4 linked regions of the Homo sapiens genome follow. The protein of the gene in region 2 interacts with the protein of the main gene of each other region in a biochemical or structural test. Each region holds a gene or a part of one and is shown on either strand. Other genes may lie near its edges.

What was found.
Region 1: the proteins of BGN (region 2) and ELN form a complex in vitro, tested with the Homo sapiens proteins (one study listed by BioGRID).
Region 3: the proteins of BGN (region 2) and MFAP2 form a complex in vitro, tested with the Homo sapiens proteins (one study listed by BioGRID).
Region 4: the proteins of BGN (region 2) and COL6A1 form a complex in vitro, tested with the Homo sapiens proteins (one study listed by BioGRID).

The regions. Positions count from the first base shown.
Region 1 is NC_000007.14:74,031,169-74,038,188, forward strand, and holds part of ELN (elastin isoform a precursor), read left to right. Parts: intron 1-4,195; coding exon 4,196-4,246; intron 4,247-5,386; coding exon 5,387-5,416; intron 5,417-6,538; coding exon 6,539-6,571; intron 6,572-7,020. UniProt on the Homo sapiens protein: Major structural protein of tissues such as aorta and nuchal ligament, which must expand rapidly and recover completely.
Region 2 is NC_000023.11:153,497,977-153,504,996, forward strand, and holds part of BGN (biglycan preproprotein), read left to right. Parts: intron 1-6,640; exon of another isoform or gene 6,641-6,644; 5' UTR 6,645-6,655; coding exon 6,656-6,893; intron 6,894-7,020. UniProt on the Homo sapiens protein: May be involved in collagen fiber assembly.
Region 3 is NC_000001.11:16,977,606-16,985,473, reverse strand, and holds the start of MFAP2 (microfibrillar-associated protein 2 isoform a precursor), read left to right. Parts: upstream 1-4,853; 5' UTR 4,854-4,887; intron 4,888-7,159; 5' UTR 7,160-7,200; coding exon 7,201-7,237; intron 7,238-7,678; exon of another isoform or gene 7,679-7,805; intron 7,806-7,868. UniProt on the Homo sapiens protein: Component of the elastin-associated microfibrils.
Region 4 is NC_000021.9:45,998,770-46,005,568, forward strand, and holds the end of COL6A1 (collagen alpha-1(VI) chain precursor), read left to right. Parts: intron 1-127; coding exon 128-190; intron 191-383; coding exon 384-449; intron 450-887; coding exon 888-923; intron 924-1,561; coding exon 1,562-1,598; intron 1,599-1,989; coding exon 1,990-1,998; intron 1,999-2,483; coding exon 2,484-2,617; intron 2,618-3,191; coding exon 3,192-3,301; intron 3,302-3,448; coding exon 3,449-3,632; intron 3,633-3,757; coding exon 3,758-3,941; intron 3,942-4,350; coding exon 4,351-4,380; intron 4,381-4,621; coding exon 4,622-5,244; 3' UTR 5,245-6,279; downstream 6,280-6,799. UniProt on the Homo sapiens protein: Collagen VI acts as a cell-binding protein.

The sequences.
Region 1 (7,020 bases), on a different chromosome or scaffold from region 2:
CCCTACATGTGACTTGGGGTCAGCTGGGGGTCCCAGACCAGGCTCTTCAGCTCACTGGTTCTCCATTTCCCTGGCTGCAAAATGGGGAGAAACAGCCCTGCCTGAAGTACCTCCTAGGGCCAGTGAGAGCTTCTAGCAATGTAATATCTGGGGGGAAAAAAAGCATCAAATAAAAGGACCGTGGGAATGGGCATTTTTAAAATAATCTATTCTCTTATTCAGAGTCTGCTAATTTGGGCTCATGGATCCTTGTAATTAGTGCACATTGCTAAGGTTTAATACTCCCTCTCACTACTTACACCATGTTTTGTCTAGTGGAGGGGCAGCTAATGTGTAAATAGATGTGCAATGATGAAAGAAGCAGACAGGACTCGGTTGGGGGTGGCCAGAAGGAGCCTTGAGAAATCCAGGAAGGCTTCCCAGCAGAAGTGACATTTGAGTTAAACCTAAAGAGAAAAGTAAATGGGGCCAGGTGCAGTGACTCATGCCTGTAATCCTAGCACTTTGGGAGGCCCACATGGGCAGATTGCTTGAGCCCAGGAGTTTGAGACCAGCCTGGGCAACATAGGAAGGCCCCCGTCTCTATTTAAAAAATAAATGAATATTTAAAAAGAAAGAAAAAGAAAGAAAGAGAGAGAGAGAGAGAGAAAGGAGAGAGAGAGAGACAGAAAGAAAGAAAGGAAGGAAGGAAAGAAGGAAGGAAGGAAGGAAGGAAGGAAGGAAGGAAGGAAGGAAGGAAGGAAGGAAAATGTTGGAGGACCTGTCTGTGGATGAGGGGTAAGTCCCCAGACTACAGGCCCTGGCAGGCAGAACTGAAGAGACAGAAGAGCAGATTCTCGATTGGAGGAAGCCCTGTCTGCAGTTAGTGCTGACAGCATTTGGAGGTGGTGATTTTCCCATCATGGGAGGTATGCAAGCAGAACACGAAGGATGTTTGTGGAAGGAGGTCCAGCCCAGGCCAGAAGACTATTATGATCCCTGAGAGTCTAGGATCGTGATTCTAAGATGCAAGAGACAAGTTCCACCCTGGGCTAGTCGGTGAAACATGCCAAAACCACATAAAACAAGACAAGTGTTCTCCAGGCCAACTGCTTAGGGCCAGCTGAGCAGCACAGTCAGGGAGAGCCGTGGGCTCGGGAAAGGCAGGCGGGAGAGTCTGAGCTCAGCCCTGGTGCGGGGGTAGGACTTGGACAGAGGCAAGGACATTCCTGGCAGGAGAAACGGCTTGTGCCAAGGAGTGGAGGGAGAAGTGAGGATCGCCACGGGGCCTGGGGAAGCAGCTGTTACCTTTTCAAAGTCCTTTCCAATTTCCAGCTGCTGTCATTTTATTCTCACCTCTCTCACTTGCAGAGAGGCAGGAATCCTTCGTAGCCCCTAAACCTTCTCCATTTCCTCATTGCAAAGTGGGGATTAAAACCTCGGGCTCCCCAGGCCGTCAGGTTCAGGCATGAAGTTTGGCAAATGCCACCATCATCAGGGTCTGAACGGTGGGGGTGGAGAGTGGGGACAGAGGAGATCTGGGGGAGGGGAAGCTAAGTCTTCCCCCCAGAAAGTGCCTGGGGTGCAGGAGGGCAGAACCCCAGGAGAAAGGAAGTCAGGGTTCAGCCAGGCCCAGGGGCTCAACAAGCCCAAGGCAGGGGGACTCCCAGGGCAGATGGGGATGAAACAGGTTAGAGCTGGATTCACAGACAACCACCCTGCCACCCCTCTACTTAATTCACCCATCATGTATTGAGTAACTACTGCATACCTGGCCCTGGGCCACGGACTGTGCAGTGAAATGGGAAAAAATGAAACGTAAGTGCCACTGTCTTTTTATTTTTGAGCAATTACTGTCTGCCAGGTCCAGAAGAGGACATAGCCTATTACTTGAACCCTTTTACAACTTGCAGCAACCTTGCAACCTTGCAGCAACCTTGCAACCTTGCAACAACCAAGTGATTATCTGCCCCATGTCACAAAAAAGGAAACCGATGTTCAGAGAGGTTGAGTGACTTTCCCAAGGTCGCACAGATGGTAAGAAGCAGCGAAGGCAGAATTAGAAGCCAGAGGGGTCTGTTCTGAGCACTTTGCTCTTCCCCCCACCTCCACCACACTGTTCCCTGCAGTCTGCTCTGGAGCCAGAGAGTAGAGAGGAAGGGAGAGAGGCACGTGAAGAATGAGGGAGAGGGGGAGAAAGAGGAGGAAGGAGAGAGGCCGAGGCAGAGAAAGACGCATAAGAGACTGTTGAGAGCTGGAGGCCGGAGCCAGGGAAGGCATCAGAGGCCCGAGGCGGGCCATGTGTGTGCTTGGCAGCGGATGACAGGGCCCAAGTGCTCCTTCTCAGCAGGCCCAGCCCCCCTGGGGCCACCACTCCGAGCCTTGAGGTTCTGACCAGATTACTTGCACACTTCAGGCCTGGACTGCAGTGCCTGAGGAGCCACAAGCCCTGGGAGGGGGTGGCGCCGGGGTCTTGGCTCCGGTGGCTGTGACAGCTCCACAGCCCTGACCCTGCTGGGCTGCAGCTGAGGCTGACAGGGCCCTGGGGCCAGCAAGCCCAGCTGTGCAGCGTCGCCAGGCCTCAGAGGCCAGACGTCTGGCCGCGAGGCCTCCCTGGACACATTGCAGAGACACCCGTTCCCCCAGCCCCGCCCATGCCCCACGGGGCTCCCGGCCCCTTTCAGCAAAAGCAGTAAGGGAGGGCTGGGCTGGGGCGTTGGCAAGGTGGCTTGTCAAGCTCAGAGGGGGGCCTTCTGAGGTGGAGGCAGGGCCCCCGGTTTGGGACCCTGTCTGTTGCCATGGCGATGGCTCAGGCAGGGTCTGGATCCAGCATCACAGCGTTCCCCAGTGAGAGCTTCACTGGTCCATGGGGACTGAACTCGTGATCCTGTCTGGCCGGTGAATTCGCTTTTCCTTAGGAAACTATTCACTGTGCTCATTCATGGCGTCCCCCTGCGGCCCCGGCGCCTCCTAAGACAGCCCGTGTCAGACGGCCAGAGCCCCACCCAAGCTCGGCTGCCCAGTGGCTGAGGACGCTGACCTCACGCCGTCCTATCAGTGTGGGAATGGCTGCATTTGTGCTGGCAGCTGCACCTCCTTAATGCTCGCTGTAGCAGCCCAGCCTGCCCTTCCCAAAGCTCTGGCCTCTACCCGGCAGCTCAGCTCGGGAAGGGAGTGGGCTGCCTGGTGAGAGGTGCTCAGACCCAGTGTCTTCCACCCCAGGCCCTCTCCCTGACTCCAGGGAGAACCAGGTAACACAGCAAGAACAATCATACTCTAAGGACTGGCAGCAGGGCGCAGGGGCCTGTCATCCTAGCACTTTAGGAGGCCAAGGCAGGAGGATCGCTTCCAGGAGTTCCAGACCAGCCTGGGGAACATACTGACACCCCATCTTTACAAAAAAATCAATTAGCCAGATGTGGAGGTGCACGCCTGTAGTCCCAGCTACTTGGGAGACTGAGGCAGGAGAATCGCTTGAACCTAGGAGGCAGAAGTTGCAGTGAGCTGAGATCTTGCTACTGCACTCCAGCCTGGGTGACAGAGCAAGACTCTGTCTCAAAAATAAAGCACTGGCCTGAGCTTCAATCCAGGCCCCGTCTCTTTCCAGCTGTGTGGCCCCAGGCATGTCCCTTAACCTCTCTGAGCCTGATTTCATGTCTTAAGATGATAGTCTCTGGGAGCGGTGGCTCACACCTGTAATCCCAGCACTTTGGGAGGCCGAGGCAGGCAGATCACTTGAGGTCAGGGGTTCAAGACCAGCCTGCCCAACATAGTGAAACCCTGTCTCCACTAAAAATACAGAAATTAGCCGTGCTTGGTGGCATGCACCTGTAATCCCAGCTACTCAGGAGGCTGAGGCAGCAGAATCGCTTGACCCAGGCAGACGGAGGTTGCAGTGAGCTGAGATCCCACCACTGCACTCCAGCCTGGGTGAAAGGCCAAGACTCCGTCTCAGTCTCAAACAAAACAAAATGATGATAGTAAGCCCTGCCCTTCCAACTTCACAGGCCGATTTCAAAGAGCAAGAATGAGAACACACTTTGTAAACAGAAACTGCTCTGGAGACAAGCAATGTCATTATTGCCATCAGCATTATTCTTGTTTCCATGTAATTGTGGGTTTTGCCATTGAAAGTAATGGCAAAAATCGCAGTTACTTTTGCACCAGCCTAATAGTTCTGGCTCCTGGAGGACTGACTCTACCTGTTTCCTTTCAGGGGTCCCTGGGGCCATTCCTGGTGGAGTTCCTGGAGGAGTCTTTTATCCAGGTAACGTACATGAAACTTCCACACACCCAGGTCATGCGGATGATGCTGATGTCCATAATAGATGCACATTTTGACACTACAGAAGGTAGGAACATTGACACGCCTACCAGAAGTCACACCCACTTAAAAATGCAATTAACAAGACATTGATTTACAGCTATTAAGAGCATACAGGCTGGACATGGTGGCTTATGCCTGTAATCTCAACACTCTGGGAGGCAGAGAAACAAGGATTGCTTGAGGCCAGGAGTTTCAGACCAGCCTGGACAACATAGTGAGATCCCCCTCTCTACACACACACACACACACAAATTTAAAATTAGCCATGTTCTGCATTGAGAAAAATGAAAATGAAGTATAGAAATTAAAAAAAAATTAGCTGGGCATAGTGGTGCACGCCTGTAGTCCTAGCTACTGGGGAGGCTGAGGCAGGAGGATCACTTGAGCTTAGGAGTTCAAGGCTGCAGTGAGCTATAATAGCACCACTGCACTGAAGTCTGGGTGACAGAGTAAAACCCTGTCTCTAAAAAGAAAAGGGGAAAAAAAGAAAAGAAAAATCAAAAGTAATACTTTCAATACTTAAAAAGTATTTGAGGCCAGGCACGGTGGCTCAAGCCTGTAATCCCAGCACTTTGGGAGGCTGAGGCAGGCGGATCACAAGGTCAGGAGATCAAGACCATCCTGGCTAACACGGTGAAACCCTGTCTCTACTAAAAATACAAAAAATTAACCAGGTGTGGTGGCGAGAGCCTCTAGTCCCAGCTACTCGGGAGGCTAAGGCAGGAGAATGATGTGATTGAACCCAGGAGGCGGAGCTTACAGTGAGCCGAGATCGCGCCACTGCACTCCAGCCTGGGCGACAGAGGGAGACTCCGTATAAAAAAAAATTAAAAAATTAAAAAAAGCATTTGAGTGTACAGAAGTGACCTGGAAGTGGGGAGAGACGCCAGCACTCCCCCAGATACATACTGACACTGGACTACTGGCCAAGCAGAAGAGAAAACCGAGGCTTGCAGAGAGCAGGTCTTGCCCAAGGTCACGTAGTTAGGCAGAGGTGGATTCAGCCATAGCTGGGGGTGGCAGCGGGCTTGCCTGGCAGAAGTACCGATGATCTCTCTTTCTCTTTCTCTCCCCCCACAGGGGCTGGTCTCGGAGCCCTTGGAGGAGGAGGTGAGCTCAGAAACCACACTTGTTCATCACTGAAAGGGCCTGGGTTTCACCCGAGCCACATGCATCCTCAGACCTGAGAACCCTGGGAGACCCGAGCATCAAGGACTCCCTCATTTCACAGACAGCATCCAGGCGGTGGGAGGAGGCTTCTTTGAGAACCAGAACCCATTGGCCTTCCCAGTCCCTCCCCTAGACTTTATGTCTGGTGCCCTCTGCCTTCCTATTTCTTCTTTTTTTTGGTGGGGGAGGACGGGGGGACAGAGTCTCGTTCTGTCGCCCAGGCTGGAGTGCAGTGGCGTGATCTCAGCTCACTGCAGCATCTGCCTCCCAGGTTCAAGTGATGCTCCTCCCTCAGCCTCCCAATTAGCGAGGACTACAGGCGCGTGCCACCACGCCCAGCTTATTTTTGTATTTTTTCTAGAGACAGGGTTTCATCATGTTGGCCAGGCTGGTCTCGAACTCCCAACTTCAAGTGATCTGCCTGACTCGGCCTCTCAAAGTGCTGGGATTACAGGCGTGAGCCACCTTGCCCGGCCCCTTGCCCGGCCCCTTCCTATTTCTTTTTATCCTCAAAAACCTCCCTGCCAAGCCGGCTGAGCAGGCACCATCTTCTTTTTTTTTTTTTTGAGACAAAGTCTTGCTCTTGTCACCCAGGCTGGAGTGCAGTGGCGCGATCTCAGCTCACTGTAACCTCCACCTCCCAGGTTCAGGTGATTCTCCTGCCTCAGCCTCCTGAGTAGCTGGGATTACAGGCACATGCCACCACGCCTGGCTAATTTTTGTATTTTTAGTAGAGACAGGGTTTCACCATGTTTGCCAGGCTGGTCTCAAACTCCTGACCTCAGATGATCCGCCTGCCTCAGCTTCCCAAAGTGCTAGGATTACAGGCGTGAGCCACCACCCCCAGCCCATCATCCCCTTTTGAGGCTGAGACTCTGGGACTCAGAGAGTATAAACCACGAGTTAGAAGTAGAGCTAGGTTCCCAGGGGCTCCAAGTCTGAGCGGGAGGACCTGGGGTGTGTGATTCCACACTGCCCACACTTTGCCCGGGTTGGGGGTTGGATAAGTAGTAGATGGATAAGCTGGGCCACCCCATTCACTATCTTCTCTTCCCTCTGCAGCGCTGGGGCCTGGAGGCAAACCTCTTAAGCCAGGTAAGACCCAAGGCCTCGGAGCATTGAGAGACAGCGAGGGAGCTGGGGAGGGAGGAGCCTACCCAGCTGGGAATGGGACAAGGAAACTAGGAACAGGACAAGGAAGCCAACGGGCAGGAGGAAGGAGGGAGGTGTGGACACCGATTAGCCTCCCAAGGATGAGTAGGCCGGGGCCAGGTCCCAGGGCTTCCAGGAACAAGAGGCTGGAAGCAGCTCCATGTCCTCCCTGTGTGAGGGCGTCTAGCATCTACCCTACATGTGCATGTGTGTTCACCCAGCTGTCCAGAGACTCCTCTCTGCAAAGGAGAGGCTGTTAGAGGCAACATCAGGGATTGCTCCGGTTCCAGTGGCCTCCAAGCCTTACATGACCCTCGGGAGCTCAGACACAGATCCTCAGCCCCAGACTTCCCCTGAGTGGTCCCCTAGCCCTTGACCCCAGACCAATACCC
Region 2 (7,020 bases):
GCAGAACCCTCCCACTCCCAGCTTCCCACCTGCGCAGCTCTGATCCCAGCCAGCCCAAGGGGCAGGGTCAGGTCCCGGCTCCCTGGCAGGCCTGGTGAAGGTGCTGCCCATTCCCATGAGGCTCATCTCTGAGGCTTAGGGGCCTGGGGCTCTAGCCAGCCTTCTTGCATGGAACTCTCCTGGTCCACTGCATCTTAAGCCTGAGCTCCACTTAAACACTGGCCTGAGATAAGCTGGAGGACCAGGGGCCCAACGGACTCTGTGGGCCTCTTGAACTTGCCTCTGCTGGCCATCCCAGTCCTGTTTGGTCCCTGAGGTGTTCAGATGGGCCAAGGGGAGCATGGCGGGCAGACTCCTGGGTGGCCAGAAGATTAGAAGGCAGCCCTGTCCCTGGAGGCAGGGGAAGTCTGGGAAGCCAGTGTGACTTCTATCCTCTGGAAGTCTGAGTCCCTGCTTGGCCTTGACTGCCATCCCATGGTTCTTGGAGGCTGCCCTCATGCAAAGAGACACACACCCATGGGAGCCCAGCAGTCCCAGGAGCCTGAAGCTAAGCAGGCTGTGGGCCACCCTGGCTGGCTGAAGGAGGCTAATCCCAGCCCAGCCTGAGCCCCCGGCAGAGAGCGGGTTGCGGCAGGGAGGGGCTGCAGGAAACCTTCCCCTCCCCTCCTGGCCTTGGTGGGCCTGTACCAGGGAGGGAGGGAGGCAGGGCCCCAGGCTCTGGGGGGCAGGCCGGGAACACCTTCCCTGGGGCCCTGAAGTGCTCGCCTGGGGAGACGATGGCTTTTCCAGGAGACTCCCTGCAGACAGAGGCAGAGGTGAGAGGCTGGGCGGGGGCTGCCCTGCTGGCTGTGTTGGGGCTGAGGAGGGGCTTCTGGATCTGTGGGCCATAGGGAGCTACTGATGGTCCTCAGAAGGGCCATGCTTCCAGGGGAGCCCCCTGCACAGCCCCGAGAGTGTGAAGCGTGTCAGCTTTGGGGCCTGTGGCACTGTGTGCATTGGGAGAGGGTGGGTCCAGACATGGGGGCAAGGACACAGACGGACAGACAGACAGTGTGTGCAGCCCCAGCTCTGCTGTTTCCTCACCGTGTGGCCTTGGGCAAGAGTTTGGGGCCAACTTCCTGAGCCTCAGTTTACCCCTTCATCAAGTTCTAAGAGCATTGCTTCCTTCTTATAGTCAACGGGGGACGGCAGGATGCTAAGTAAAGAAATCACATGAGTCCCCTGCTCTGCCTCTGAGAGGTGACAGCATCCTCCCTTTTCCTTGGAGACTCTAGCAGGAGGCCCCGGATCTCTTCGGAGAGTGGGAGGGGGCAGCAGTAGTCCGTGTGCAGAGGACCAGGAGCGCACAGTGGGAAGGGCTGAGTCCCGCACTCCGCCGACTGTGGGGACAGGCTGGACCTTGACATGGGCGCCACAGGCTGCAAAGGGCTGGCACAGAGAGGTGGGAGGTGGCTGGGCGCATCAAGGGAGAACTCCACCCTTGTCGCCACCCTGCCAGAAAACCTCTGGAAAGGATTTGAGCAGCAGATGAGCCGGGGTTTCCCAGCCCCTCCACACGTGGCTGCAAGGGGAGCAGACGCCCAAGCGTGGCTGCCTGAAGGGCATGCTCCGGCAACGGCAGGGGCTTGGAATGTGGCACAAGGTCCACCCCTCCCCACTCCAGCCCCCAGCCCCTCAGGCAGCCACTCCCACAGATGAACGCACACGCCGGGCTTTGGCAAGGCCAGGGAGGGTACACATCCCCTCTCTGGTTGATGCCCAAGTACAGGCTGGAGCCATCGGCGGGGAGGGACTGGTGGACTGGGGCCTGGGAGAGTGGCAGGGGGCAGGCCGGGTGTCAGCGGGGGCACAAGCACCAGGCTGCTGGTTGAAACTGGGCCCAAAAGGCTTTGGAGGCCAGAGGGGAGGGGAGGAAGGACACAGTCCCGGGGACCCCGCAGGGCTGCGTGGAAGGTGGCACATGTGTCAGAGTTCAGGTCGGGTTGCTCAGGGGGGCAGACGCCCAGGGCTGAGGCTGCGGAGACAGCATCCGGCGTCTGCCACTTGGCAGCTGTGAGCCACACCATCTGCAGGCGAGCTCCCAGGGCCCGCCAGACCTCAAGCCCTGCTCCCGCCGCCCTTGGCCTGGCCTGAATGCCTGGCACGGACCCTCCATGTTCTCAGAGGCTGCCAACGCATCTTGTTTGGCTGTGACCTCGAGCAATCCAGTGCAGAGGACTGCGCTAGCTTTCAGAGGGGCAGACAAGGAGGGCCCTATTGGGGTGGTGGCGGAGGCTCCAGGAAGCCCAGCCTCCTCCCTCACTCACACCTGCGGTCGCCAAACCTGGGGCTTATGCCATTGCCGCCCCTGTCCTTTGCTCTAAAGAGATGGTATCCAGGGAGCTCAGGGCACACTTTGGTGGGGCTTGAAACCCTCCCTGAAGTCCCTGAAGACACACCCAGAGAGGCCAATGAAGGGAAACTGAGGCCCAGAGGCCTCAGTTGTGGTGGTGGAGAGTTGAGGACTGGAGGGACTTGCTGTGGGTCTCACAGGATCTGACTATGGGGTATTCCTGCTTCCTGGGCTGGGGTCCCCGCCTGCCTTATCTATGTGTGGATATATGTGTATGTATGTGTATATGTATACATATGTATATGTGAATGTGTGTATGCATGTGTGTATAGATGTGTGCATGTATGTGTGTACATATGTGTATGCGTGTATACAGGTGTATATGTGCAGGTATGTATGTATGTATGTGTGCATGTATGCATGTGTGTGTGTGTGTACGTGTGTATAAATGTGTATGTGTGCGTGTGTGTGCATGTGTGTGCATGTGTGTATGTGTGCATGTGTGCATGTGTGTATACATGCATGCATGTGCGCATGTGGATGTACATGTGCATGTATGTGTATAGATGTGTGCATGAGTGTGTGTGCATCTGTGTATATATGTGTGTATATGTGTATCATATGTGTATGTGAATGTGTATACATGGGTATGCATGTGTGAGTGTCTAGGTGTGTGCATGTATATGTGTGTACATGTGTGTATAGGTGTGTGCACGTATATGTGTGGATGTGTGCATGTATGTGGATGCATGTGGATGTGTGTACATATGTGTTTTGTATAGGTGTGTGCATGTGTGTGTGCACGTGTGTACATATGTGTTTTGTATAGGTGTGTGCGTGTGCACGTGTGTGTATGTGAGCGTGTATGTGTGCATCTGTGTGTGTGTTTGTGTGTGTATGTGTGTACGTGTGTGTGTGTGCATGTTCTGGCAGGAGGGAGGGGCTTGGTGTGAGGTGGTGGGGAGAAGGCAGGGGCCAGGCTTTGGGAGGACAGCTGAGCCTATACTGCCAGGACCTCCCAAACTGCCACCCCCAGTCTTGGGCATTCAGGCTCTCACAGGCCCAGAGACATGGCTGGAGCCCTGTGGCTGAGGAGCACAGCTGAGAGCTCAGGCGGGGCCTGGAGGCGCCAAAGCTGAGTTCCAAGTCAGGCTGAGTGACTTGGGAGAAATCAGAGCCTCTCTCTCGGCCTTAGCTTTTGTGTCCATAAAATGGGGATACTCATCAGGCCAGCTCCAGGGGATCCTATCCTTCCCCCCAGGCTCCCCTGGCTCCCTCTGACTTCATGGGCCCCTTGCTGCCTCCTGTGGGCTCAGACACGGAGCCTGCCCCTTCCTCGGGAGAGGTCTCAGTTTTGTGCCAGTTCTTTGAGGGGAAATGAGGGATGTGCCGGGAAGCCTGCCCGGCCCCCGCCCCTCCAGCCTGCCCACTGCTTGGGCACAGCCATGAGCCATGGAAAACCAGCCAAACCTTGTCCTTCTGCCTCTGTCACGGGGCCCGGGTGTATGGGCCTTCCAGCCCTCAGCCTCCCTCCCCGCTCTGAGGGAACCTCTTCCCCTTGCCCCTTTCTCAGTCTCTTGGAGACCCCCCAGACATCCTACTGTATCAGGCAGCCTGCCTCCAGAGCCCTCGTTGCCCCACAGCTGGTCCCGGGAACCCGCCTGAGACCCCGATGGCCAGTCTTGCCGTGACTGGCCTGCCCTGTGCCTGTGCCCCCTGCCCTGGTGGAGGGCCCGATTCCCTAACAGGAGGGCCTGCAGGGAAGTCCCAGCTCCTGGGGAGACCCCTTGCCCCGGGGCAGGAGTCCCTGTAGAGTCCTCCTCCAGGCCAATGCGTGGGTCCTGGGGGGCTCCAAGCTGGCCATGGTCAGATGGTCCTCTGTCCCCTCGGCCTTCCCCAGCCCCTCCCCACAGCCTCCCGTAGGCCCAGCCGGACCACCCCAACCCTACCTGTCCAGGTGGACTGCCCACCCTGGAGCTTGCCAGGGCTCTGGCGGGGTGTCCCAGCCCTGACTCACTCTCCCTGGGAGGTAGCGGCTTTGGCAGGGGCATCGGCAAGGAGGGGCAGGGCAGTCTCCTCCCTCCCCCACTCCATCTTGCTCTCCTGCTTCCACCCTGCCCTTCCTGTTCTCTCCCACTGCTCCTCCTCCTCCTCCTCCTTCTGCCCCCGGGTGTCCACTGGCACTGGGAGAGGGTCCTACAGCGGCAGCAGGCATCGGAGGCCCTGCCCTGCCCTGGAGGAAGGGAAACACCATCCAGGTAGGTGAGTGTTGAGCCTTCTCCCTACTTGGGGGCCAAGACCCTCCGGGCGGTTCCCCTAGGTTCTGCTGGGCCGGCCTGAGGCTGGCAGGCCCTGGGCTGCAACTGTGGGATCTCAAGGCTCAAAAGAATGAGGGAGGCTCGGTGCTGCCCCAGCAGGGGCCTCCTGGTGACCCCAGGGGTCAGCATGAAGTCCAGCTCCACATGAGGGGGAAGCTGAGCTAAGCCTTGGGCTCCGACTCCCACTTTGCAGTGTGGCCCAGGGCCTGTGGGCTCAGGAGGGCTCCGGGGCTGGCTGCGGAAAGGCCACTCCACAGGCCTGGCAGCCGCTATAGCCACAGCCTCACCACAGGCCCCTCTGTCCACAGGTGTGGGAGGGCGCATGGGTGGCTTCTAGGGGGGATGCCAATGCAGGGGGGACGCGTGCCAGCAGATGCTCCCTGGAGCACCCGAGGAGCTGCATGGGGGCGACAGGACAGGCCTCCATCCCAACCCTCTCCTGGGCTTGTGCTCAGACCCAACCTGGCCCTGAAGTGGCCTCAGGCCCCCGGCCCGCTGGTAGCAAGGACTCCAAAGCGGCAGCCCCGGGCAGCCAGCCCAGCCCCCAGGGCAACTGGGGAAGCATCGGGCAGGGCGGGGCTGCTCATAGGGTGCTGGCCTGGGGGCAGAGCCCCCACCTCCCCACGGCCTCCTTAGACCCCTGCAACCAGCAGCTGGGCTTAGGGGGCTCACCTCGCTCTGCTGGAGCCCCAGACAGCCCCTCCCCAGCTAGTACTGGCCCTAAGTGAGGGTCTCCTGGGCGTGCGACTGCTTCAGGTCTGCCAGAGGCCCCTGCTGCCCAGCTGGGCTCCCCATCTCCAGATGCACCGAGGGCCACCCCAGGCTGGGTGGCAAGCAGGGCAGGCATGTTTATTCCCACTTAACAGATGGGGAAGGTGAGGCTGGGATGAGACCTGGGCCTTTGCTGGAGAGTCAGGGTGGATGAAGTGGTGAGAGAGGCAGGGCTCCAGCCTCTTCCTGTAGGGCACATTCCCGGCTGCCTCTGGACGGGAGACCGTGTCTGATGAGGAGGGAGGAGGCAAGCAGAGGTGGGTGCTGGGGGCAGGCTCGGGCAGGGCTGCTTCGCCTCCACTCCCACTCGCCGCCTCGGCCTGGGGGGCCTCAGGCAAGCCTGACCCTGCCCTGCCACCCTGGCGGCAGCCTGCTCCCCTGGGGGGCCTCTCTGGGCTGCCGAGGCTGTGGGCAGGGAGGAAGGGTGCGAGCAGATCTGGGAGCTCCAGGGCTGTTTGGGCCAAGGCGGTGTGGGCGGGGGGCTGGGGCGGGTGGTCCAGAGGAGGAAGCCAAGGCCCAGGGGCAGTGTTGGGGGCGCCACGGCCTCCACCTCGGGGGCCTCCACTCAGTGCTGCCTCAGCCAACTTTACCCACGGCCTCCAAGGATACCCCCTCTTTCTCCGCCCTGCCTCCCTACCTTGGCCTTAGAGGGTCTCTGAGAAACGTGGGCAGGGTGGAGGGAGGAAGCAACTCAGAGTCGCCGCACTCAACTAACTTCATCCACGCTGCCCTGAGCCCAGAACTCAAAGGAAGGATCGGCCCGGGTAGGAGGCCACAGTGATGTCCCCAAAAGTGAATTCTTCAAAGCCCTTGAGGGCCAATGGCTAGGATTCCTCCTCCACCTCCTCCACGCAGCCTCATGGACGCCCCCGCCCTAAAGCAGGCTTCTGGCAGACTCAGAGGCGTGGGGGCCTGCAGACTTGCTGATGAGGAGACATTTCATCGCCTGATTAAGCCAAGTCCTGTCCGGGATGGGGAGGGGGGTAGTGGAAGCAGTGAAGGGAGTGGAGTGGAGGGGGCACCCTCCTTGCCAGCAGCATCCACTCCCTTCCTGCCTGGAGCCCTCTGCCCACACTCCGCCCTCTCCGCCTCCCGCTCCAGGGTCTGGCCGTCCCTGGTGAGGGATGGGAACGCAGTGCCACCACACACGCGGAACACCAGCCCCTGGCATGGAGAAGACAGGTGGGTGCTGGTGCTGATGATCCCCTCGCCTCTTCCCCCAGGTCCATCCGCCATGTGGCCCCTGTGGCGCCTCGTGTCTCTGCTGGCCCTGAGCCAGGCCCTGCCCTTTGAGCAGAGAGGCTTCTGGGACTTCACCCTGGACGATGGGCCATTCATGATGAACGATGAGGAAGCTTCGGGCGCTGACACCTCGGGCGTCCTGGACCCGGACTCTGTCACACCCACCTACAGCGCCATGTGTCCTTTCGGCTGCCACTGCCACCTGCGGGTGGTTCAGTGCTCCGACCTGGGTTTGTCCCTGAGTGATGGGGAGCGGGGCATGCAGGGAGGCTCAGGTGCAGCCTGAGAGCCCCTTCTGAAGGGGACACATGCTGGTCCTGTGGGACGGTGGCGAGCATGATGTAAGTGTAGGAGGGG
Region 3 (7,868 bases), on a different chromosome or scaffold from region 2:
TTCGTCATGTTGGCCAGGCTGGTCTCGAACTCCTGACCTCAGGTGATCCGCCCACCTTGGCCTCCCAAAGTGCTGGGATTACAGGCGTGAGCCACTGCGCTTGGCCCCATTTAGCATTTTACACACATTGTCATGTCATCCTTCCAACAACTGTGGTACTATTCCCATTTTACAGATGAAGAAACCAAGGCTTAGAGGTTACACAAGTAGTCAGAGTGGGGCCGGATAGCTTTGACTCCAGCTTCGATGTTCCTAACCCTCCTACCCTCCTTTGGAGGACAAGGAGATGTAGGCTTGCCTGGGAGGCATTTGCTAGGGGGCAGCTCCCTCTCTCCCACCTTACCCCCTCCCCGTCCCACCCCAGCATCCTGGGACATGTTTGTGGGCAGTTCCTTCCTCAGATGAAATCCAGGCTCGGAGCCCACATCTCCCAGCCAGAACCACGCGCATCATCCCTCAGGGAAGGGTGGGTGCCTCTGAGCTCATCTCACCAGCGGGCCCCTGGCCAAGCCCCTCTGCTCTAGAGAGGCAGCTTGGCCGTCTGGCTCATCTGGGCAGGGGAGAACAGGAAAGACCGGCTGTTTCCTGCCTTCCAAAAGCCCTGGCCAACCTCATTCCTGGAACCCCTGGTGCTATCCCCAGGCCTGCCAGAGTAGGGGCTGAGAAAACGTTGAATCATGCTGGGGAGAAGGGATGTGGGTGTGAAGATGAAAGTCCTGCCAGGAGGCACATCACAGTGGACCTCTGCTCCTGGCACTGTGTTGCCAGCCAGCGACGGTTCAGGGTGGTAGATGCTGTTTAAGAGGAAGCCACAGAGAGGCCTGGGTTCAAATCCCTCCTCTACCCTTAGCTGATTATTCATGAATCTGTTGGACAGGTGTGTGCCAGGCACCAGGACTAACTCAACAAACTGAATAAAACGGGACAAAAACATGGTCTAACCCTGCGAGCAGTTCACCATCCAGCGTGAAAGCCTGGCAGGGAAGGAGCACATCTCCAAAGACGTAGTGGGAGCACAGCAACCACAGCCCCATCCCCTCCCCTGCCCAAAGAAACAGCCAGGGGAATGGGTAGAAGCAGCAGAGAGGACATGGGAGCCAGGACACGAATTGTCAGCTTTAGCCCCTCAGTTTCCCAGTTTTTCTTTTCTTTTCTTTTTTTTTTTTCAGACAGGGTCTTGCTCTGTTGCCCAGGCTGGAGTGCAGTGGTGCAATCGTGGCTCACTGCAGCCTCTACCTCCCCAGGCTCAGGTGATCCTCCTACCTCAACCTCCTGAGTAGCTGGGACTATAGGCCAGCACCACCACACCCAGCTAATTTTTGTATTTTTTGTAGAGATGGGGTTTTGCCATGCTGTCCAGGCTGGTCTCAAACCCCTGGGCTCAAGCGGTCCACCCGCCTTGGTCTCCTAAACTGCTGAGATTACAGGTGTGAGCCACTGCACCCAACCTCCCTCCTTTTTTCAAGGGTAGGGGACAGCATTTCTGCTGGGTGAGTTCCTCTCTTTTGCCAGTGGGATTGCTCCTGGCAGCAGTGGGGTCTAAGGGCAGGCAGAGAGGGCTGGGCTGGCCTGGCCTGAGGGCCCACCTCTCTCCAGGTGACAAAAGTCTCTGCTGCCCTGCAATAGACACTGGGGGGCGGGGCATGGGAATGAAGGAGGCACAGGGCATATTTACTCCCTCCCTAAGACTCAGAGTCTAAGGGAGGTGGGGGAATGACTGGCGATGAAGAGATCAGATGGCAAGGGTCTAAATCAGGGGCCATCCTCATCTCCTCCCAGCCCGCAGCCCCTACAACTCTCACTCCCGCCTCAGGCCTAGGCTCCTGGGCAGGGCTGAAGGCTGCCCCTCACGCAGAGGATCTGCACCCCCAGCCAGCTTCTCCGGGAAGAGTTTAGTGTACAGTTCACTCATTCATTCCACCAATGTTTGCTGAACTGCTGCTCTGAGCCGGGCTCTGAACTTAATGAGCAAAACTGAAGATGAGCAAAAACAGCCTTGGTCCTGGCCTTCACGGGGCAAGATGACAGTCTCATCGGGAAGAGGGACAGGGCTCAGATGGTCACAGACATAGGCCAACAAGACAACTGCAAGCAGTAAAGCTAGAAAGCACAAAAAAAGGAAAAAGGGAAGGCCCCTCTGAGGAAGGGAGGGTTTGATCTGTGACCCCATGGAGGAGACCTCAGCCAGTGCTCGGGAGGAAGAAACGCCTCAGTGTGGGAGGGAGAGGGGTTTGGGAGAAAACCCCCAAAGGCCAGTGGCTGGAGGAGGAAGAGGAGGCAGAGCCAGGCTGCCATAAAGGGCCGGGGCCCTGGAAGCCACAGGGAAGTTGAGCCTCTAACCTGAGTGAAAGGCGATCAGTAGAAGGGGCACGATCTGCGGGGGTGAGGGAGGCAGGACCCACGTGGGAGAGCCCAGAGTGGAGGCTATCGCAGAGCCCAGGCAAATGATGGTGGTGTCAACTAAATAAGAAATCAGCCTTTTGACCAGGTGCAGTGGCTCACGCCTGTAATTCCAGCACTTTGGGAGGCCAAGGTGGGTGGATCAGCTGAGGTCAGGAGTACGAGACGAGCCTGGACAACATGGAGAAGCCTCGTCTCTACGAGAAATAAAAAAAAAAAAAAAAATAGCCAGGCATGGTGGTGGGTGCCTGTAGTCCCCACTACTCTGGAGGCTGAGGCATGAGAATCGCTTGAACCCAGGAGGCAGAGGTTGCAGTGAGTTGAGGATGCACCACTGCACTCCAGCCTGGGAGATAGCAAGACCCTGTCTCAAAAAAAAAGAAAAAGAAAAAATCCACCTTTTGGCCAGGCACAGTGGCTCATGCCTATAATCCCAGCACTTTGGGAACCCAAGGCAGGCGGATCAGCTAAGGTCAGGAGCCTGGCCAACATGGTGAAACCCTGTCTCTACTCAAAAAAAAAAAGCAAAAATTAGCCTGGCATGCTGGCATGTGCCTGTAATCCCAGCTACCCGAGAGGCTGGGTTGGGAGAACCTCTTGAACCCGGGAGGTGGAGGTTACAGGGAGCCGAGGTCACACCACTGCACTCCAGCCTGGGCAACAGAGTTAAACTCCATTTCAAAAAAAAAAAAAAAATCAGCCATTGAAAAAATTAAAGTTAGTTTTATTGAGTCTTACTGAGGACTGCACCCTGGGAGAGGGTTTCAGAGAGTTTCTGTTAGACTGCGCCAAAGCAGCATTTCAGCCCACAGTTTAGATACAGAGGCAGGCGGTTCTGTGTGTGCTCAGAAGCTATGGTCAGGCACGGTGGCTCACGTCCGTAATCCCAGCACTTTTGGAGGCTGAGGCGGGTGGATTGCTTGAGCTCAGGAGTTTGAGACCAGACTGGGCAAACACGGCAAAACCCCTTCTCTACAAAAAATACAAAAAAAAAAAAAAAAAAAAAAAATTAGCCAGGCATGGCGGCTCTTGCCTGTAGTCCCAGCTACTTGGGAGGCTGAGGTGGAAGGATCACTTGAGCCCAAGAGGTGAGCTGTGATGGTGCCACTGCACTCCAGCCTGGATGACAGAGCGAGACCCGGTCTCATTAAAAAAAGAAGAAGAAAAATTTACATCAAATGTCTTCAGAAGCTACACTAGTGCAAATCTCGCCAAGGTTTGGGTTCGAGGATGCACCTAGTTATATAGATTATAGAGGCATAATCGTCAATCCTGTCAGGTGCTATCTTATGTACAGGAAAAGGCACAGCCAGGATCATTTAACTTATATTTTCTAACAATGCAGTGATTCAGGCAAGAGGCGTGGGAGCCTGTGTTCTGCCCTGCCTGCCATCTTCAAGGCATCCTTCCGTTGGGCTGCCCCCAGTCACTGAGTCAGGGCTTTGTCAGCTTCTGACAAGCAGAAAGAGCAAATGCGGTTTCTTGGGATTGCAACTTGGTCTCACAGTGGCTTAGGCCAGGGTGGGAGCAGTGAACGGAGTCACAAAAGAAATTTTTCAGGTAGCATTCACGGGTGGGTGCTGGATTAGATGCAGGGCTAAGGGCAGGGGAGGAAGCCTGGGTAATGGAAGGCTGCGGGGCCAAGGGGGGACTGGGAATCCTGGAGGGCCAGGTCTGGGGGAGAGTTAGGAGGTCGTGAATTTGGACTTGGATGCTTGTTGAAGCTGATGCATCTTGAGGACATTTGTGGGACACATAGGCTGGGTCAGGGCTGAAAGAGGTGCTGGTTATGGCCGGGGGCAGGGACTCATGCCTGTAATCCCAACAGCCCAGGAGGATGAGACAGGAGGAATGCTTGAGGCCAAAATTTCGAGGCCGGAAGTTCCAGACGAGCCTGGGCAACACAGCAAGACCCTGTCTCTAGAAAAGGAAAGAAAGAACCGCTGGTTGTGGAAGCCAGCCATGGCCCAGAGCTCAGCAGTGTAGGAGAGGAGGGTGCGGGCCTGAGAGAGGCAGCAGGCTTGGCTGGAGAGGCAGAAGGAAAACCAAGGCAGGAGAGTGTCCTGGAAGCTGGGAGAAGGCAGAGGGAGATCGAGGCTTACTTTCTGGCTGAGGGGCCTAGGGTGAGTCACTTTGGGAGGCTTGATTTCCTCCTCTGTGAAATGGGCAACACACCTACCCTTGCCCACCTCACCCCCCTCACCCCGTCGACGTCGAGTGAGGAGCAGCTGTGAGGAGGAGGAAGCTTTGCACAGACGTGAGGACGGCCCCGGGCGCCTCTACCCCGGGGACACCCCCCCCCCCAGGAGATGGAACCCCGAGGGCACGGCGTGGCGGCCCATGCGGGCAGCTCGCGTTAGGACCCAGCGGCTCCGGGGCTGGAGGGCGGGCGCCAGCCCCGTCGGGGGCCCGGAGGGGGACTCGGAGCGGGCCAAGGGGCGGCTCCGGCGGGCGGACTCGGAGCGGGCGGCGGAGTGACCCGGACAGGTAGGCGCGGGCCTGGCGCTTGGGGGCCCCGGGGGGCGGTCAGGGGCGTCGGCGGGTCCCCCGGCGCGGGGGCGAGGGTGCCAGGCTCTCTGGGTCCTCGATCCTGGGGCAGCCGCGGAGGTTCCTGAACCCCGCGCCTTCAGAGCGGAGGCCAAGGGGGCACCTGGAAAGTTTGGGGTTGCTCTGCAGAGAGAACGCGAATTGGGAAGGGCGGGGAGCCCGAGTTTGGGGGGAGCCAGAGGTGAGGTCGTCGGGGGATGGGACATCTTTTGTTCTCCCGGGGAGGTTGGAATGTGGCGGGTGGGGTGGGGGGGGGGGGTCCGGTGGGAATGGCCGAGACAGAGACGCAGAGAGACAAAGAGAGATCAGAGACGGGAGCGCGAGGGCGCGCGGAGCAAGTTTCCGCGGCTGATTGTTCCCAGCTGTGCGGCGCTGCAACATCTGGGTTTCTCCCGCCGGGACCCCTCCCCCTGAGCCCGGCTCTGGAGCCGGCAGAGCCCTCCCTCCGTCTGATGTCTGAGCGAGCGTCGGGGCCCCCTGTCCCCCACCTCCCAGGACGCAGGGGAGTCGGGGGTGGGGGAGGCCGCAGCTGTGGAAGAGGCCAGAGGTGGGGGTGGGGCAGCCTCCCAGGCAGGTCCTGGCCTCCCGCACGCCCCAAAACCCCTTCGTCTAGAAGAGCTCGGAGATGTGGTCCCGTGGGAGGAGTTCATGAACTCCACACTGACTTCTCTCTTTCCTGCCTCCCCGCTAGCCCGTGGGCCTCCTTCCCCCAATAAGCCTGGGTTCGGGGGCCAGTCCTAGGGGAGGAAGACTCCCCGCAGGGTACCGACAGGCATCCCCCAACACCTTGCAACCCCTCTTGCCCCAATTCAGCGCCTTCTGCTGAGCAGCGGGGGCTCCGACCGACCTGACGGATGGGGAGAAGGGCAAGGAAGGCTCTCTGGGTCTTTTCATCCCCCTCCCATGAGGAGGTCAAGGGTTTTCAGAATGGGGTGTGGGGAGCCAGCTATCCCTCGCCTCTGGGGCAGCTTGGTCCTGAGCTTCGTCTCCCGGCTCCCACTCCACCTTAGTGAGGTGCCTAATGCATGAGAGGAGCCAGGGGGTCAGGAGGCCTCAGGATTGAGAGGAAGGAGGGAAAGACCTCCTGCTTTCTCCCCTTTCCCTCCCCTCTCCCTGGACTCCCAGTGGGGAAAATAGACCAAAGTTGGGGTTTCCAGCTAGCTCTCTGAAAGGACTTCCTGGGTTGCAGCCGGGAGGGGCCCTCCTGGATGGACCCCGCCCTCGCAGCCCTCCCTACAGAAGGCTGACGGACCTGAGGTGGCCCTCCACTGAGCTGGGGCTGGATGTGGGGAACCGGAGGCTCCCCCAAGTCCCACCGTGTAGCCAGGACTGGAGGCTGGGCTCTTGAATGTCAGGAGCCTGATGAAAGCCACGGACCCCATGCCCTCTCCCTCCAAATGACACACACACTTGCCTACAGTGTCAGGGGGTGCAGAACCCCCAGCCTGGGTGATGTCACGGCCCCTTCAGTGCTGCCTTTCTGGGATCCAGAGGAGCCCCCTCAGGCTTCACTCTCGTGCTTCCTGCTGCTGCAAATAGCCCGGGTCTCGTGAGCCTGTGATGCACACAGCCAGGTCTTGCGAGGCCTGGAGGCCTGGCAGGAGAGGAGTCTTCTGGGAGCTGGGAGCCCTGCCCGGCCTGGCCGCTCTGGGGGCCGGGCAGGCCCATGTGTATGTGGTTTCCTGCTGAGCAGGATGCTTAGGGCCCAGGGGCTAATTGGGAGCAGGTGGTGGCTTGGCAGAAGCTGCTGAGTCCAGGCGGTGATGCCGGCTGGCCAGGGCTGGGGTCCCAAGGATGGGCCTGGGTTCAGTGATTCACGCAGTCAGTGCCTTGGACACCCAGGGAGCCACTGGGCCAGAGGGCTGAGCACGGGTGTGGGTGAGGACAGAATGGCCTGGGCTGGGAGCACATTAGGAATGTCCCCTTAGTGAGCAGGGCAGGGTCCGCCCTTCCCTGACCACATCAAGTACACCCACTACACGGGGTTTGCTTGTCAGGATCAGCCCTGGAGCTGGGTTGGAGGCCTTGTCCCTTGTGACCTGAACACCTGGGTGGGCCAGCAGGGACTGGGATGTCCCTCCACTCCAGCCCTCCCATGCCTGGCTTCTATTCTGGGTGCCACCTTCTCCAGGGCGAAATCAGGGGATCAAAGGTGAGCTCTGCTGTCCTGGGTGTGGCCCTGGGTAGAGCTCTCCCACCGGTCTTTCCCCAGCTGTCCTCTCTGACACCACCCCGGCCTGCCTCTTTGTTGCCATGAGAGCTGCCTACCTCTTCCTGCTATTCCTGCCTGGTAAGTGGCTCCTGGGGCAGGGGGTAGCTCCTCTTATGTGGGGCTGAGGAGTAGGGTTAGTAGGGGGAATTCATAGTGAGCCTTTGTCACGACTTATGACCAGAACTCAGCTCCCCAGCTCCCAGGGCCTTCTGCCTGCTTGGACCACAGACTGGACCAGCCAACCCTGGCAGCATCTGGAGGCAGCTCCTGGCCCTTCCCCCAGCCTTCCACAGCAGCAGGCAGGCAGGGTTCTGGAGGGCACGTCCCAGGCACAAGGACTCCGTGGGCACAAGGCACAAGGCCTCTCTGGGAGCCGATGTGCAGGTGCAGGGGCACCCAAGGCAGGGAGTCCGGATGCTTGAGTTCTAGATCCATTCAGGGCCCTTCTGCTCTATACAGTCCTGACCTTGTGGGGGTCCCTACTGGCCAAATGAAGAGAATCAATGAGGACCACAAAAGTCCTAGCAGGGCCAACATTCATTCATTCAGCAGCGATGTGTTGAGTCCCTACCACGTGCCAAGTGCTGGGCTAGGCCCTGGGGATTCAGCGATGAACCAGGCAGACACATCGTTGCTCCTCATCATGCTGCCAGTCCAGGGAAGGGAGACAAATAGGAAACAAGCAGACATGAGAAACTCCAGCATGTGC
Region 4 (6,799 bases), on a different chromosome or scaffold from region 2:
AATGTGTGTGGTGGGGGAAGGGAAGAGAAGAGTGCCTCTCTTATCTTTATTTTTTTCCTTTTAAAATTTCCACTTCCTAAAAACAAAATAAAACCCTTGTTAACCAAGTGCTCTCCCGTCACTGCAGGGCACGAAGGGCTACCCCGGCCTCAAGGGGGACGAGGGAGAAGCCGGGGACCCCGGAGACGATGTAAGTGTGGATGGGAGGCAGGGCCAGCCCCAAGTCCACCTGAGCCAGAGGGCTGGGCCCTTGAAGGGCAGTGGACCAGGACCCGCTTGGGGAGGCCTCATGGGCCCCGGCTGCTGGATGCTCTGTGGACGGGGCCAGCGCGCAGATGCCCGGGTGGTGCACGGTCTGTTGACACAACGCTGTTCCCTTCTAGAACAACGACATTGCACCCCGAGGAGTCAAAGGAGCAAAGGGGTACCGGGGTCCCGAGGGCCCCCAGGTGGGTGGATGTGGCTGGGTGAGGCCACGGTGGGCTGTGCCTGGGACGCCGGATGCTGGGGCTGGGGAATGCTGGAAGAGGCTGGGAGAGTGGGAGGCGGCGGGAGGGAATTTTGGGGAGCACGTCATCTGGGAGGCCCTGGGGGTGGGAGGTGCCGGTCACCAGGGCCAGGTGGTGGCCAGGGCAGCAGAGCCGAGCCCAGGGACACAGCGGGTCCTCAGGGTGGGGCCCACCTGGGATGGCCGCCTGGACCACCAGTGTGCGAAGCCCCAGCTGCCCTCACAGCACCGTCACTGGAGGACGAGGGGCTGGGTAGGGAGGGACCGGGCAGGGGTGGGCTTGATGAGGGGCAGGGCCCTGGGGGTGGGGGCTGTCTCAGCTCAGGAAGCACAGTGGGCTCCTCACCCTCAGAGCTCCTCTACTCCGTTTCTCGGACAGGGACCCCCAGGACACCAAGGACCGCCTGGGCCGGACGTAAGTGGGGCTCTGTGAACATTGCTGGGGGCGACCACTGTAGCTTCCATCCCTTGGGGTGTGGGTCCTGTCCATGGGTGCTCCTGTAGACGCTGCTCACGGGGGGGTGGGTTGTGGACAAAGAGCTGGTGCCAGGCCCTAGGGACCCGTGACGGCCATGGGAGGACCCGTGAGGATCATAGGGGGATGTGTGAGGACCATAGAGGGGACATGTGAGGATCATGGGGGACATGTGAGGATCATGGGGGGGACGTGTGAGGATCATGGGAGGACGTGAGGATCATGGAGGGGGACATGTGAGGATCATGGGGGACCCGTGAGGATCATGGGGGACCCGTGTGAGGATCATGGGGGGGGACGTGTGAGGATCATGGGGGGACCTGTACCCATGAGGACCATGAGGGGACCCGTGACGGCCACGGGGAGACCCATGACTGCGCTGTTTCTATGACCACGTCAGGGGTCCAGCCCAGTAGCAGGGGTGTAGTGGGCAGAGCCGGGCACACCTGCAAAGAACCTCCTGCCCAAACCCCGCCCTGTGGGGGCCCCAGGGAGGGTGACCTGGAGATCCAGCAGCCCACAGTCCCCGCTGGGAGGGGCTGTCTATGGCCCCAGTACCCTCGTCTCTCCCTCCCCAGGAATGCGAGATTTTGGACATCATCATGAAAATGTGCTGTGAGTATCTCTGAGAAGCCGTCCTCGTTAGGGAGAGCAGGGCCGCCAGCCTGGCCTGTTCCACTCCTAGAAGGGTGTCTCCACTGTTGGGGGCCTGGGTCTCTGGGTACATCCTTGAGGAGGCTCCTCAGCCAGCCCCTACCGGCCTCCAAAGCCCTCCCAGGCCCCCGGGTCCCCGCACAGGCTGAGAGTCCCCGGTGCGGTGCAGAGCTGCCACGTGGGGAGGGCGGCCGGGGAGGCGGGGAGGCGGGGCAGGAGGCCGGGGAAGGGGGGAGGCCGGGGAAGGAGGGCGGCCGGGGAGGCGGGGAGGCTGCCCCAAGAGTAAAAGCCTTTCTGACGTGCGCAGGACGCGGCCCTGACTGGTCTAACTGACTCTTTCTCTTCTCCTCAGCTTGCTGTGGTGAGACCCAGGCTCTAGCTCCTGAGAGAATGGATCCCGGGGGTCGGGGAGCGAGGCCTGGGTCCCACACATGTCACAGGACAGCACATGGCACTCTGGTCCCCGCCCGCAGCTCCCTGCACCTGCCCGCCCCCTCTGGGGCCTGCTCCAAGCCAGCAGGGTTCCCGGGTGTTGGGCTGGGCCCCGCCCTCTTTCACCCATAACTGAAATAACCAGGAGCAGGCTTGGGGGGGTCCCTGCTCCATCATTCTGGCCCACAGGCCCCACCCTAGCCTGGCTGAGCAACGCCAGCCCTGACCAGCCGCCGGACAGAGCAGCCTTTACGGGGCCATGGGAGGGGGTGGGCTTTTCTGGGGCTGAGACGGGGGGACCCCAACGTGTCAGGTGAGGATGTGGCAGCCAAGGAGGGGCCAGGGCGGTGGAGGGGAGGGGCCAGGGCACTGGAGGGGAGGGGCGTGCTCTGCTGACACCGCCCCCGCCTGCAGAATGCAAGTGCGGCCCCATCGACCTCCTGTTCGTGCTGGACAGCTCAGAGAGCATTGGCCTGCAGAACTTCGAGATTGCCAAGGACTTCGTCGTCAAGGTCATCGACCGGCTGAGCCGGGACGAGCTGGTCAAGGTGAGGCCTCGCCCCGCCCGGCTTTCTCAAGCCCAGGTGCACCCCGACCCTGCCGGCCGCCCCTGCCCGCGCCAGACCTCAGCCTCCCGAGGCCACCGCTGCATCCCTGTGACTTCCCTACTCATGACAAGGATGCCAGGCACGCGCCAGCCCGTCCAGGCCTCCAGCTCCACCTGGCGAGGCTGGCCCATTGTACACAGGCGCCCCAGATGAGGGAGGGTCTCCCCCTCTCCTTGAAGGGCGGTAGTCTGGGGTCCTGAGTGCTGGGTGTGGGCTTGTCCCTCGTGGACAGAACCCAGGAGGGCTTCATCCACCAAGGAAGATTGCTTTGCAGGGTACCCAGGTCCCGGGGGCTGTGCCACCCTCTGGGCACCCGGAGCCAATCGCAGGGTACCCAGGTCCCGGGGGCTGTGCCACCCTCTGTGCACCCAGAGCCAATCGCAGGGGACCCAGGTCCTGAGGTCCTGGGGGCCATGCCACCCTCTGGGCACCCGCAGCCAATAGAGTCACCCTTGGGAAGCTTATGCGGACCTGGGGCAGCACTCGCGTCCTGACCCCGGTGCCGGTCCCACAGTTCGAGCCAGGGCAGTCGTACGCGGGTGTGGTGCAGTACAGCCACAGCCAGATGCAGGAGCACGTGAGCCTGCGCAGCCCCAGCATCCGGAACGTGCAGGAGCTCAAGGAGTGAGTGCCCCACGCGGCCAGGACCCTCCCACCCCTCGCCCCGACCGCTGTTCCCACGGCAGGTCGGCCCTGACCCCTGATCCCAGGTGGGCTCGGCCCCGCGGCAGGCCTGGCCCCAACCGGCCCTTCCTGCCCTTTGCTATGCAGAGCCATCAAGAGCCTGCAGTGGATGGCGGGCGGCACCTTCACGGGGGAGGCCCTGCAGTACACGCGGGACCAGCTGCTGCCGCCCAGCCCGAACAACCGCATCGCCCTGGTCATCACTGACGGGCGCTCAGACACTCAGAGGGACACCACACCGCTCAACGTGCTCTGCAGCCCCGGCATCCAGGTGGGGTGGCCACCCCCAGGCTGCACCTGCCCCGCCTAGGGCGCCCCGCCAGCCAGGGTGGCCTTGTCCCCAGAAAGACGAGGGCAGAGCAGGCTGCGCCACACCGATACTGTCTGTCCCCACAGGTGGTCTCCGTGGGCATCAAAGACGTGTTTGACTTCATCCCAGGCTCAGACCAGCTCAATGTCATTTCTTGCCAAGGCCTGGCACCATCCCAGGGCCGGCCCGGCCTCTCGCTGGTCAAGGAGAACTATGCAGAGCTGCTGGAGGATGCCTTCCTGAAGAATGTCACCGCCCAGATCTGCATAGGTGCGCATGGGGCCACCCGGGCAGTCCCAGATCTGCGTAGGTGCGCGCGGGGCCGCCCGGGCAGTCCCAGATCTGCGTAGGTGCACGCGGGGCCGCCCGGGCAGTCCCAGATCTGCGTAGGTGCACGCGGGGCCGCCCAGGGCCGTCCCAGATCTGTGTAGGTGCGCGCAGGCGCCCAGGGCTGTCCCAGAGGCCTCCTCCCAGCTCACTGTTACCTCCAGGGGCACGGCCACCCTGTAGGTGCGCACGGGGCCGCCTGGGGCTGTCCCACAGGCATCCTCCTCCCGGCTCGCTGTGACTTCCGGGGGCACGGCCACCCCTGTGCTCGGCCGGGAGGTCCTGTGACATCTCCTTGCGGGGTTATAGGTGGAGCAGTGGGCTCACACTGCACGGCTTTTCTCTTTTACAGACAAGAAGTGTCCAGATTACACCTGCCCCAGTGAGTACCTCGGCGGCCGGGACACGTGGGGAGGAGGGCACCGTGGTTGGGGCGAGGGCTCTGAGAGGACGGGGCTCTGGGAGGAGGGCCTGGCGGTCACGAGAGTAGGTGCATGGCTCACTCCGGTGGCTGAGCACCACCGTGCCGTGCCCTCTCTGGGGAGCTTAGACGCTCTCTGGCCGGCCCACTGCGGCTGCATCACCAGGGCCTCATGCTAACGGCTGCCCACCCCGCCCCGCAGTCACGTTCTCCTCCCCGGCTGACATCACCATCCTGCTGGACGGCTCCGCCAGCGTGGGCAGCCACAACTTTGACACCACCAAGCGCTTCGCCAAGCGCCTGGCCGAGCGCTTCCTCACAGCGGGCAGGACGGACCCCGCCCACGACGTGCGGGTGGCGGTGGTGCAGTACAGCGGCACGGGCCAGCAGCGCCCAGAGCGGGCGTCGCTGCAGTTCCTGCAGAACTACACGGCCCTGGCCAGTGCCGTCGATGCCATGGACTTTATCAACGACGCCACCGACGTCAACGATGCCCTGGGCTATGTGACCCGCTTCTACCGCGAGGCCTCGTCCGGCGCTGCCAAGAAGAGGCTGCTGCTCTTCTCAGATGGCAACTCGCAGGGCGCCACGCCCGCTGCCATCGAGAAGGCCGTGCAGGAAGCCCAGCGGGCAGGCATCGAGATCTTCGTGGTGGTCGTGGGCCGCCAGGTGAATGAGCCCCACATCCGCGTCCTGGTCACCGGCAAGACGGCCGAGTACGACGTGGCCTACGGCGAGAGCCACCTGTTCCGTGTCCCCAGCTACCAGGCCCTGCTCCGCGGTGTCTTCCACCAGACAGTCTCCAGGAAGGTGGCGCTGGGCTAGCCCACCCTGCACGCCGGCACCAAACCCTGTCCTCCCACCCCTCCCCACTCATCACTAAACAGAGTAAAATGTGATGCGAATTTTCCCGACCAACCTGATTCGCTAGATTTTTTTTAAGGAAAAGCTTGGAAAGCCAGGACACAACGCTGCTGCCTGCTTTGTGCAGGGTCCTCCGGGGCTCAGCCCTGAGTTGGCATCACCTGCGCAGGGCCCTCTGGGGCTCAGCCCTGAGCTAGTGTCACCTGCACAGGGCCCTCTGAGGCTCAGCCCTGAGCTGGCGTCACCTGTGCAGGGCCCTCTGGGGCTCAGCCCTGAGCTGGCCTCACCTGGGTTCCCCACCCCGGGCTCTCCTGCCCTGCCCTCCTGCCCGCCCTCCCTCCTGCCTGCGCAGCTCCTTCCCTAGGCACCTCTGTGCTGCATCCCACCAGCCTGAGCAAGACGCCCTCTCGGGGCCTGTGCCGCACTAGCCTCCCTCTCCTCTGTCCCCATAGCTGGTTTTTCCCACCAATCCTCACCTAACAGTTACTTTACAATTAAACTCAAAGCAAGCTCTTCTCCTCAGCTTGGGGCAGCCATTGGCCTCTGTCTCGTTTTGGGAAACCAAGGTCAGGAGGCCGTTGCAGACATAAATCTCGGCGACTCGGCCCCGTCTCCTGAGGGTCCTGCTGGTGACCGGCCTGGACCTTGGCCCTACAGCCCTGGAGGCCGCTGCTGACCAGCACTGACCCCGACCTCAGAGAGTACTCGCAGGGGCGCTGGCTGCACTCAAGACCCTCGAGATTAACGGTGCTAACCCCGTCTGCTCCTCCCTCCCGCAGAGACTGGGGCCTGGACTGGACATGAGAGCCCCTTGGTGCCACAGAGGGCTGTGTCTTACTAGAAACAACGCAAACCTCTCCTTCCTCAGAATAGTGATGTGTTCGACGTTTTATCAAAGGCCCCCTTTCTATGTTCATGTTAGTTTTGCTCCTTCTGTGTTTTTTTCTGAACCATATCCATGTTGCTGACTTTTCCAAATAAAGGTTTTCACTCCTCTCCCTGTGGTTATCTTCCCCACAAAGTAAAATCCTGCCGTGTGCCCCAAAGGAGCAGTCACAGGAGGTTGGGGGGCGTGTGCGTGCGTGCTCACTCCCAACCCCCATCACCACCAGTCCCAGGCCAGAACCAGGGCTGCCCTTGGCTACAGCTGTCCATCCATGCCCCTTATCTGCGTCTGCGTCGGTGACATGGAGACCATGCTGCACCTGTGGACAGAGAGGAGCTGAGAAGGCAACACCCTGGGCTTTGGGGTCGGGAGCAGATCAGGCCTCAGTGGGCTGGGGCCGGCCACATCCACCGAGGTCAACCACAGAGGCCGGCCACAGGTTCTAGGCTTGGTACTGAAATACCCCTGGGAGCTCGGAAGGGGAGTTGAGATACTGCAGGGCCCATAGGAAGAAGTCTTGGGAGGCTCCACCTTTGGGGCAGAGGAAGAAGTCTTGGGAGGCTCCACCTTTGGGGCAGAGCAAGAAGAGGGCGGAGGGCAGAGGCAGCGAGGGCTCATCCTCAAAAGAAA